Homo sapiens: one gene and its partner. The protein of the gene in region 2 purifies or fractionates together with the protein of the main gene of each other region. This does not show direct contact. Each region holds a gene or a part of one and is shown on either strand. Other genes may lie near its edges.

Region 1 (5,251 bases), on a different chromosome or scaffold from region 2:
CGATTAAAAAAAAAAAAAAAAAAAAAAATTAGCCGGGCATGGTGGCACACACCTGTGGTCCCAGCTACTCGAGAAGCTGAGGTGAGAGGATCACTTGAGCTCAGGAGGTCGAAGCTGCGGCAAGCCATGATCGCACCACTGCTCTTCAGCCTGGGCGCAGAGTGAGACCCTGTCTCAAAGACATCTTCAAGGTTAAAAAAGCTCAGGAAAGACTACTGCAGCCTGAGCTCTCCGGTGCACACAAGCACACTGAGGTGCTGATAAGCCACCTCTGCAATAGAGCAACCTGTTTAACTTGGTTTAACTCACATTTTTACAAACTTATTTGTCCTCGATCCTCAATTTTAGTAATCTTCTATTCACTTCCTGCAGGATATGAGTGTTCCACGGAAAAGCAAAACACTGTCCTAGATTTTTATCCTAACTCTTTCACTTTTCAGCCATCTGAGGTTGGACAAATCACCTCACATCTTTGGGATTCTGTTTCCTTCCCTTAACCTGGAATGATAAAAATCTACCTTGCATAAACTGTACTTTCCTATCCAAAGCTGAAGGAATTTTTTTTTTTTTTTTGAGACAGGGTCTCACTCTATTGCCCAGGCTGGAGGGCAGTGACATGATCGTGACTCACTGCAGCCTTGACCTCCAGCTCAAGCAATCCTCCCACCTCTGCAGCAGAGGGATTGTTAATGCCAGGACCTTTGAACTGTCAGAGCCCGTGCCCCACTCCACCACCAGTATCCCAGTGCCCTTAATACCCCTCCAACAACACACACACACAGACACACACTATACACATCCCACTTGGCTTCTGAAGGCCTGAGGCCCTTCACCACCCTAGAGATCTGACTCTCCTCTTTCTTCCCTTCCCAGGTCCCAAAAGAGGTACAGAAGATAAAGATGTGGGGCTTGTTCCTGGACACATACCCACTCCACCCCTGGCTGCAAGTGGATTGGCAAAGGGTGGAATTTGGCGAGAGGCTCTGGGGGTCACTGGGTTAGGATTCCAGCCCTCTTCAGGGCTGGTAGGGGTCGGGAAAGGAAGAGACCCTGTTGGAGTTGCGGGCCACTTAGATGGTGTCCAGGCCAGGTCAGTTGGTGGTGGCACCTACCTCCAACCCTGCCCGGCCAGGCTGTTCACCCTGGGGGACCCTCCCTCCCTAACCTCCCATGCCAGTCCTGTACCCACTTCCAGGATGCATATAGTTTCAGAACATTCAGGATGTCCACTTGAAGAAGGAATTCTTCACGAAGTATCAGGACCACGGCTTCTCAGAGATCTTCACCAACTCACGGGAGGTGAGCAGCCAACTCCGGCTGCCTCCGGGGGAATATATCATTATTCCCTCCACCTTTGAGCCACACAGAGATGCTGACTTCCTGCTTCGGGTCTTCACCGAGAAGCACAGCGAGTCATGGTAAGGGGCTGCAGCTCACTGCTCCAAGGCCCGCCACCCAAGAGCTGCAGGATATCAAGCTCAGGGAGCTGCTGTCGGGTCCTCCCTCACTTTGTCCCTATTTTACAGTCAGGGAAACTGAGGCATGAGAAGGTGAAGTCCCAGTTAGTGGCAGAACCAGAACTAGAACTAGAACCCATATTCCATGGAGCTGCCCTATATTGCTTCAAAGACATGACATGACCCCCAGAGCACCCCACTAAAACCCCCACCTCCCTCCCCCTGGTAACTCTTGAGCTTTCAATCATTTTGCCCAGGGAATTGGATGAAGTCAACTATGCTGAGCAACTCCAAGAGGTGAGGGGAGACTGTAGGGCTGGGGGTTGGAAGGAAGCTCCTGGGCCTGTGAAAGAAGTTTTCTGACCAGGTCCCTTTCCTGCTCCCCGGCCCCCAGGAAAAGGTCTCTGAGGATGACATGGACCAGGACTTCCTACATTTGTTTAAGATAGTGGCAGGAGAGGTGAGCAGGCCACGAGCGGAGGGCTGACAGGAGGGGGATGAGGGGCTGGAGGGGCCCGAGTGGGGTTCACAGTTCCCCTTCCTAGGGCAAGGAGATAGGGGTGTATGAGCTCCAGAGGCTGCTCAACAGGATGGCCATCAAATGTGAGTCTTCCACTCCTGCTGCACACGACCCCTCCCCCATATTTTGTGCCCCTCTTGATCACTCCCAGTGCCCCCACGATACCTCATTTACCCTGTCTCTCCTTTCTACCCCTTCCCTTCCTCACAGTCAAAAGCTTCAAGACCAAGGGCTTTGGCCTGGATGCTTGCCGCTGCATGATCAACCTCATGGATGTATCCTCCTGTCCAGTGCTCTCTTGGCCCTGTCCCCTGCCCACAAGCCTGGCCCAGAGATGGCCACCCTGGGCCAGCCACGTCCTCCTCCCTGATGGGGATTAGGCTCTGGGGTAGCAGAAGATGCCAGTTCTTCTGGCTGCTACAGTACCGGAACCCCAGGGCTTGTGTGTCCCCTCAGGAACCCCCGCTGCTTCCCTATCCCCTGGGATGCCTTCTTCACTCCTTCTCTGCTGTCCTTGACCACCTTCCAGAAAGATGGCTCTGGCAAGCTGGGGCTTCTAGAGTTCAAGATCCTGTGGAAAAAACTCAAGAAATGGATGGTAAAGGGCACTAAAGGGGCAGCCTCCAGGGGTGAGGAAAAGAGGGTCTTAGGAGAGATGGAACTAATGAGGGGAAGCTAGAACCCAAGCCCTAACCACACACACACACACACCCAACCACACCACACTCACACACACACACACACACTCACATACAGACACAACCACACCACACACACACACACACACTCACATACAGACACAACCACACCACACTCACACACACACACACTCACATACAGACACAACCACACCACACATACACACTCACATACAGACACAACCACACCACACTCACACACACACATACACACTCACATACAGACACAACCACACCACACTCACACACACATACTCACATACAGACACAACCACACCACACTCACACACACACACACTCACAGACACAACCACACCACACTCACACACACACATACACACTCACATACAGACACAACCACACCACACACACACATACACACTCACATACAGACACAACCACACCACACACACACACACTCACATACAGACACAACCACACCACACACACACATACACACTCACATACAGACACAACCACACCACACTCACACACACATACACACTCACATACAGACACAACCACACCACACTCACACACACACATACACACTCACATACAGACACAACCACACCACACTCACACACACACATACACACTCACATACAGACACAACCACACCACACACACACATACAGACACAACCACACCACACACACACACACATACACACTCACATACAGACACAACCACACCACACACACACACACATACACACTCACATACAGACACAACCACACCACACTCACACACACATACACACTCACATACAGACACAACCACACCACACTCACACACACACATACACACTCACATACAGACACAACCACACCACACACACACACACATACAGACACAACCACACCACACACACACACACACACACACACACTCACATACAGACACAACCACACCACACACACACATGAAAAGGGTCTGTTGGAGTGTGGCATATTACCCAGTCAAAATATTTTATAACAAGTATAGCTCAGGTATCATCTAGTCATGAAGGATGCACACAAAGAGCGCTGGGCAGGGCACCAGTGCCCCCGACAACCCATGCTTGGAATTAACCCTTAGGTCACCAGATGATAGGAATATCAGGAGTGGGCCAGGGTTGGAGGGGGGCATGGGGTCTTAGGCCACTGCTGTGAGCCAACTGTCCTAAAGTATTTCTTTTTCTTTTTTTTGAGACGGAATCTCACTCTGTTGCCCAGGCTGGAGTGCAGTGGTGCGATCTCTGCTTACTGTAACCTCCGCCTCCTGCCTCAGCCTCCTGACTAGCTGGGATTACAGGCATGCACCACCACACCCAGCTAATTTTTGTAGTTTTATTAGAGACGGGGTTTCGTCATGTTGGCCAGGCTGGTCTCAAACTCCTGACCTCAGATGATCCGCCTGCCTCGGCCTTTCAAAGTGCTGGGATTACAGGCATGAGCCACCGCGCCCGGCCTCAGTATTTCATTATTTCAACCACCATGCCATGCATGTGGCCCTACCATATCTGTCTGTCTCTTCAGGACATCTTCAGAGAGTGTGACCAGGACCATTCAGGCACCTTGAACTCCTATGAGATGCGCCTGGTTATTGAGAAAGCAGGTGGCCAAGGGTCAGGAGTGGGCCTTGGGGCAGGGAAGAGGATGGCAGTGTCCAGAGGCCCAGACTTTTCCCCTCCCCACTTCTCTCTCCCTCTCTCAGGCATCAAGCTGAACAACAAGGTAATGCAGGTCCTGGTGGCCAGGTATGCAGATGATGACCTGATCATAGACTTTGACAGCTTCATCAGCTGTTTCCTGAGGCTAAAGACCATGTTCAGTGAGTTAGGCATCTACCCACTCCCCAGCCTAGGCCAGGGGCCGCGGGCCCTTTCCCAAACACCCACCCTGATGGGTGCTGCTCCAGATCCCCTCCCCCTTACAAGGCACACATGAAATGGATTCAAAGCCCAGCTCCGCCACTTGCTGGCAGAGGTGACTTGAGCAAGTCACTTAATCTTTCTGTGCCTCCATTCCCTCCTCTTTAGAATGTGGATAATAATAGTACTGCCCTCAAAGGACTGAGGTGCAGGTTAAACCAGTTAGTCTATGGAAGGCAATCAGAACTGGGCCTGGCTCCTGGTGAGGCTATGTGAGTTGCTATCATTAATTCCCCACTTGGCTAGGGGATTTATGTGGGGAACAGCCAGGAACACCTGGTGTCGCCCCTTCCTACCTAGTTGGGAGTGGTTCTTTCGGAACACTGACTTAGCATTCAGCCCCTCTCCCCCGCTTCCTCTGTAACGCAGCATTCTTTCTAACCATGGACCCCAAGAATACTGGCCATATTTGCTTGAGCCTGGAACAGGTACTTGGAGAAGGGTGGGAAGGAATCTGCAGGATTGCACCTGCCTGCCCCTCAACCCCACCCCCACCCAGCTCTGATGTCCCCGGGCCAGCATCCTGCCCCCGTCTCTTCCCACCCTGGGATCTGCTTCCTGTCTCCACAGTGGCTGCAGATGACCATGTGGGGATAGAGGCGCTGTAGGAGCCTGGTCATCTCTACCAGCAGCAGCAGCAGCGAGGTTCTAGCCCAGGAGG
Region 2 (5,251 bases):
CTGAATGCTGGGCCATCAGGGTGAGGGGCGTCTTCTCCTCGTCCATTGCCTGTTCTCCCAGGGCAGGTGGAAGGGGAAGGCCCTGCATTGGGGTGGCGTGAAACAAGATGAGATGGTAAGATCTGCTTTCACTTTAAAGGAACATTTCTGGTTGTTGCTTGGAAAGAAGTGTCAGGGGCAAGAATGCTGCAGGAGGGCTGGCCTGGAGGACAGGGTGGGACTGCGGGCTGGCTGCACGGGGGCAGGAGCCTGCGCTTGCGTCAGAGGTTCCTGAGAGACTCGGTCTCTGGGGCAGAGGCCTGAGCAAGGGGACCTCGCTGGGGTGTCTCTGTCTTAGCCACGCTCGGTGTTTCTGGGTCCTGTGACCCACGTGTGAGCAGCCTGTGGTGCTGGTGGCACAGGGAAGGAAACCGAGGCAGGGAGCCTGTGGGGGCTGCTTGGCAGGGGACAGGCAGCTCCTGTGCCCACTGCTGTCCCACACCTGCATGGAAACAGAAACCCCGCCACGGAGCCCCCTCCCATCTCCACAGGGCCTCTAGAGCGCCATGTGCAAGGACTTCATGGGCGGGGTGGGGTGGGGTCAGGAGCCTGCTGTGGGCTGGCCAGGCCCTGGCCCTCCCTGTCGCACCCTGCGCTGCCTCCATGCACCTCTCAGGGCTGTCATGGCTTTTCCTGTGGCTTCTGACAGGTAGAGTCAGCGATGACGGCTTCATAGCCATTAAGCTCACAGCACTGGGGAGACCCCAGTTTCTGGTAAGTGCTAGAACCTTCCACCTGCAGAGTCTGGTGCTGTGCGAGATCTCAGGGCAGCTGTGGGCATCCACCAAAAACACAGGTGCCCATGCCTTAGAGGCCTGAGCTGGCCACAGGGGCTGTGTGGGGGACTGGGGTGGGCAGGGGCGTGTGCAGATGGCATTCAGGCCTGCGTTTGCAGCTGCAGTTCTCAGAGGTGCTGGCCAAGTGGAGGTGCTTCTTTCACCAAATGGCTGTGGAGCAAGGGCAGGCGGGCCTGGCTGCCATGGACACCAAGCTGGAGGTGGCGGTGCTGCAGGTGGGGCAGCCTTCCCCTTCCCCACTCCTGTGGCTTGTGAGGGGGTGGGCACCGTGGGGTCACACGGGGCATGGTGGGCAGTGGTCGGAGGTGGTTTTGGGAACTCACCCAGGGCATGTGGCTCACTCTGCAGCTGCTGGGGTTGGCCTGGTGGGGAGGAGGAGGTCAGAGGGACTCTGAACAGAGAGGGGAGATGCTGGCAGGAGGGCTGGAGACCCAGCCCTGCAGGGCGTGGGCGTGCATCAGCAGCGGGGTGGGAATAGACCTGTCTATGCAGTAGAAACAAACCAGACATGGATCCTGTTCTTACTAACGATGTAATAAAGCCAGAAACAGCACCAGAGGCCAATGGGTGGGGGGAAGGATAAAATATGAGTGAATGGGGCTGATCCAGGCCTTCTCACTTCTCAAGGAAAGTGTCGCAAAGTTGGGCATCGCATCCAGGGCTGAGATTGAGGACTGGTTCACGGCAGAGACCCTGGGAGTGTCTGGGTGAGAGCAGCCCCCAGGCTGAGAGGACACGAGCATCAGCCATGGTTCCAGCCAAGCCCCAGTGACGTCTCCCAGTCCTGGCTGCCCTGCCTGAGAGGGTGGGCCCTGGGATGACAGTGCTGAAGGAACTGCTTTTCACACAGCAGGACTTGATGGCTTCAGGAGTCCCTGAGGCTGGGGCTGGGCTGGGCAGGGGAGACACAGGGCCAGCACAGACCCCATAGAGGGCTCTTTATAGAATTATCTGGGTCCAGAGCAAAGGTGGCACTCTCAGCCCTCCCTGGAGTCCACGCCGGCAGGTGAAGGATCAGAGCCCCATGCCCCATCCTTGGAGCCAGGGGCTGGGACCCAGATCACCAGGAGCCTCCAGTTGAAGTGGGGAGGTGACTGGGGTGGTGCAGTAGTGAGCCATCCCCTCACACACTGCCAGCCTTGCCCACTGTGTCCTCCCTGGCCGCCCGGAGCTGTGTCCGCCTCCTGCCTGGCTGCCTGTGCTCGGCCCCTCCACAAGCCCAAAACAGCCTAGGGTACTCAGTGTTTTCAGAGCCGCCTAGATGCAGGACTGTTTGTGTTTTGGTTTTAAATTTATTTAATTAATTTATTTTTTATAGAGACCAGGTCTCACCATGTTGCCCAGGCTGGTTTCAAACCCCTGGGCTCAAGTGACCTGCCCGCCGCAGCCCCCAAAGTGCTGGGATTATAAGTTTGAGCCCCCGCATGCCACTGGTTTTAAATTTTTAAACAGAAAACAATATTTATATTTCCTCTGTCTTTTAAAACTGAACACCGAGGTGGGTTTTGTGGTGGGTGGTGAACGGACAGGTTTGGGCCTCGATCCCCCACCCGACCCTAGCACCCACAGGTGGGGGTGCCCCCTCTGCTGATGCGCCTCCTCCCTCAGCACCATGGACCTGCTGGACTGGAGCAGCCTCATCGACAGCAGGACCAAGCTGTCCAAGCACTTGGTAGTCCCCAACGCACAGGTAACACCTCCGCTCCTCAGTGAGGCCCAGCTCAGCAGGGCGCTGCGCTAAGAAGGGAATTCAGCCTGCCACGTGTGTCTCTTGTTGCCTACCCTGGGAACTTAACATGACCAAAATCACTGCACACTATGGCCCCACAGACCCCCTGTGGTCCAGGGGGAAGAAGACAAGCCCACTAGTGTCCACAGAGTGCTTGGCGGGACAGAGACCCACGCGGAGCCTTAAGACACCACAAGGAGAGGGGGTCTGGGGGCCTTCCCCAAGTCATCTGTCTTGTGCATCAGGTCACCCCAAACTTCAGAGGCCTGAAACGGCAGCAGCCACTCTGCTTCTGCCTCATGGTTCTGGGGTTGACAGGGCTCAGCTGGGCAGTCCTCCCCTGGGGTCTCCTGGGTAGCTGTACTCACAGAGTGGTGGCGCTGGGACCTGGGGGAGGCACCCATTCACATGTCTGGGAGTTGGTGCTGGCTGTGGCTTGGGCTTTTTCCCAACATGGCAGCTGGGCTCTAAGGGCCAGTGTCACCTGAGACGTGAGAGCCAGGCAGAAGCTGGGTGACCTTTTCCTGCCTCGCCTCAGAAGTCACACGGTGTCTTTTCTGGCAAGTTCTGTTTGTTAGAAGCATGTCACCAGGCCAGCCTGTATACAGCGGGGAGAGGAATGAGACTCATCTGCCTGTGGGAGGGGGGCCCAGGACCTGGCAGACTGCTTGAAACCACAGCTTAAACTGGGATTCAAAGAAAGAACAGAAGCACCTTCAGAAAACATCCTGCAGAGGCAGCTTTCCATGACACATCTAGCCCCAGTCCACTAAGGGCCCAGCCTCAAACTTAGAGCCCCCGACCCAGAGCCTCGGGGCGCAGTGCGTACAGTGTGGCTGTGCACCAAGGCCACCAGCTGTTGGAGACTTTAGCATGGTGTAGCAAGGGATAGAGTGGTACTGTTTGTGCCCAGTGAGGCAAGGCTGCTGGGGCCAGCAAAGGGGTGAGCGGGAGGCCCTGCGGGATGGGTCCCCACGGCCTCTGAGCACCAGCAACTTGAAGGCCTCATCCTGGTGGTTGCCCTGGTCCCTGGCTACGTGTCAGCACGTGCTGCACAACTGCCCTGTCTGCCTGTAGCCAGGGGTCTTCCTCCTGGGCCCTCTGCCTGCTCCGGGTGGAGCCCTTCTGTTTGACGATTGGGTGATCAGTGTTCACTTGTTCAATGTCACATGGGAGTTGCAGGGGGCTCTCCCACAACGGTGGGGCCTCTGTGGGAACTGGGGAGTACACACTTCGGAGTGCAGGCCTGGACTGAGCCTGGGGCCCACTGACATGGGCACTGAGCTCCCTCGTGGTACCCCTAGGCCCCGCATAGGGCAGTGCACTGGCTGCGTTGGAGGTTCAGGGGCACTGTGCTGCTTGTCCAGGTGGCCCTCCCTCCCAGCCCTGCACAGACGGGTGAGAGGGTTCCTGTGGGCTGGGAATACTGAGAGAGGTTTAGCCTGGGCCTCAGGGTGGCACTTTCCCGCCCTTGCTGTGGCCTGACCGCGTGTTGCACCCCCAGACAGGACAGCTGGAGCCCCTGCTGTCCCGGTTCACTGAGGAGGAGGAGCTACAGATGACCAGGATGCTACAGCGGATGGATGTCCTGGCCAAGGTGAGCTGTCCCGCTCGGGCAGAGGGTACCTGGGACTCGTGGAGAAGAGGGCACCTGCCTCACTTGAGCAACAGTTGCTCCCACTCTCCCACCCCCTGCGCCTCTCAGAAAGCCACAGAGATGGGCGTGCGGCTGATGGTGGATGCCGAGCAGACCTACTTCCAGCCGGCCATCAGCCGCCTGACGCTGGAGATGCAGCGGAAGTTCAATGTGGAGAAGCCGCTCATCTTCAACACATACCAGTGCTACCTCAAGGCAAGCCCCCGCTCAGCCCCTCCCTGCCTGCCCTGGGGCTTGGAGACCCCACAGGAGGGGCTCCTCTCATCTGAGCTCCCTGGCATTTGGCTGGTTTTACACTCAGCACCCACCAGGGAGCTCATGGGATGGAGGAGGGAGTGGGCCGTGCCCCCAAGGGGTTGTTGGGGTCTTCTGCAGCACAGCTCACCCAGCGGGCCCCAGGGTCCAGGAAAGAGCCCCTTAGGTGGTGGCCACAGCCAGGCCTGCAGAGGAGGCTGAGGCCAGGGTGACTGCCTCAGAGTAGCAAGAAAGACCCGCTGCCCGCAACCTCTCCCCTGGTTCTCAGAACCAGCCAAGAGTGTCTAAGGAGCAGGAGGAAGACAACAATCTTTATGAGGGTCCACTAGATGTACCCGACACCCCAAACTTGGAAGGTGTCACATGACCATTTCCTCCAGCGTGTTTTCAGTTCAGCGCCCCTAAGAACCTCCTGAAAGCTTTGGGCCCTCCCCGGAAAGACTCACCCAGGATGTCACATGTATTCAGGGAGCCCACCCTAGCCTTTGGGCCCCAAACTGCTCAGGGATGTTAGCAGGTCCAGAGCTCTCAGGGGTGAGCCGGATGCCCAGAGGACACAGGGTGGCATGGGGAGGGGTCCAGGCAGGAGCATGCAGTATGCACCCCTCCCGGTCGGCCTGGGAGTCTGGAGCACATGATGGCTGCTGGCGCCTGGGCTGCACCCACAGGGCCGTCCACAGGCCACACAGGAAGTTGCAGACGTCCCCACTGCCATTGCTCCTTGGGGACAGAGGTTGGAGGCCCATCCTCACCCACACCTGCTCCAGGTGCCCT

The links.
Region 1: the proteins of PRODH (region 2) and CAPN11 fractionate together in Homo sapiens (co-fractionation; one large-scale study listed by BioGRID). This does not show direct contact.

What each region holds. Positions count from the first base shown.
Region 1 is NC_000006.12:44,178,746-44,183,996, forward strand, and holds part of CAPN11 (calpain-11), read left to right. Parts: intron 1-873; coding exon 874-885; exon of another isoform or gene 886-1,206; coding exon 1,207-1,418; intron 1,419-1,714; coding exon 1,715-1,754; exon of another isoform or gene 1,755-1,755; intron 1,756-1,851; coding exon 1,852-1,917; intron 1,918-2,002; coding exon 2,003-2,060; intron 2,061-2,187; coding exon 2,188-2,252; intron 2,253-2,506; coding exon 2,507-2,575; intron 2,576-4,195; coding exon 4,196-4,274; exon of another isoform or gene 4,275-4,284; intron 4,285-4,373; coding exon 4,374-4,490; intron 4,491-4,698; exon of another isoform or gene 4,699-4,802; intron 4,803-4,959; coding exon 4,960-5,018; intron 5,019-5,160; coding exon 5,161-5,187; coding exon of another isoform or gene 5,188-5,198; 3' UTR 5,199-5,251. UniProt on the Homo sapiens protein: Calcium-regulated non-lysosomal thiol-protease which catalyzes limited proteolysis of substrates involved in cytoskeletal remodeling and signal transduction.
Region 2 is NC_000022.11:18,918,617-18,923,867, reverse strand, and holds part of PRODH (proline dehydrogenase 1, mitochondrial isoform 1 precursor), read left to right. Parts: intron 1-688; coding exon 689-753; intron 754-934; coding exon 935-1,051; intron 1,052-1,463; coding exon 1,464-1,543; intron 1,544-2,444; coding exon 2,445-2,526; intron 2,527-4,069; coding exon 4,070-4,162; intron 4,163-4,270; coding exon 4,271-4,417; intron 4,418-5,251. UniProt on the Homo sapiens protein: Converts proline to delta-1-pyrroline-5-carboxylate.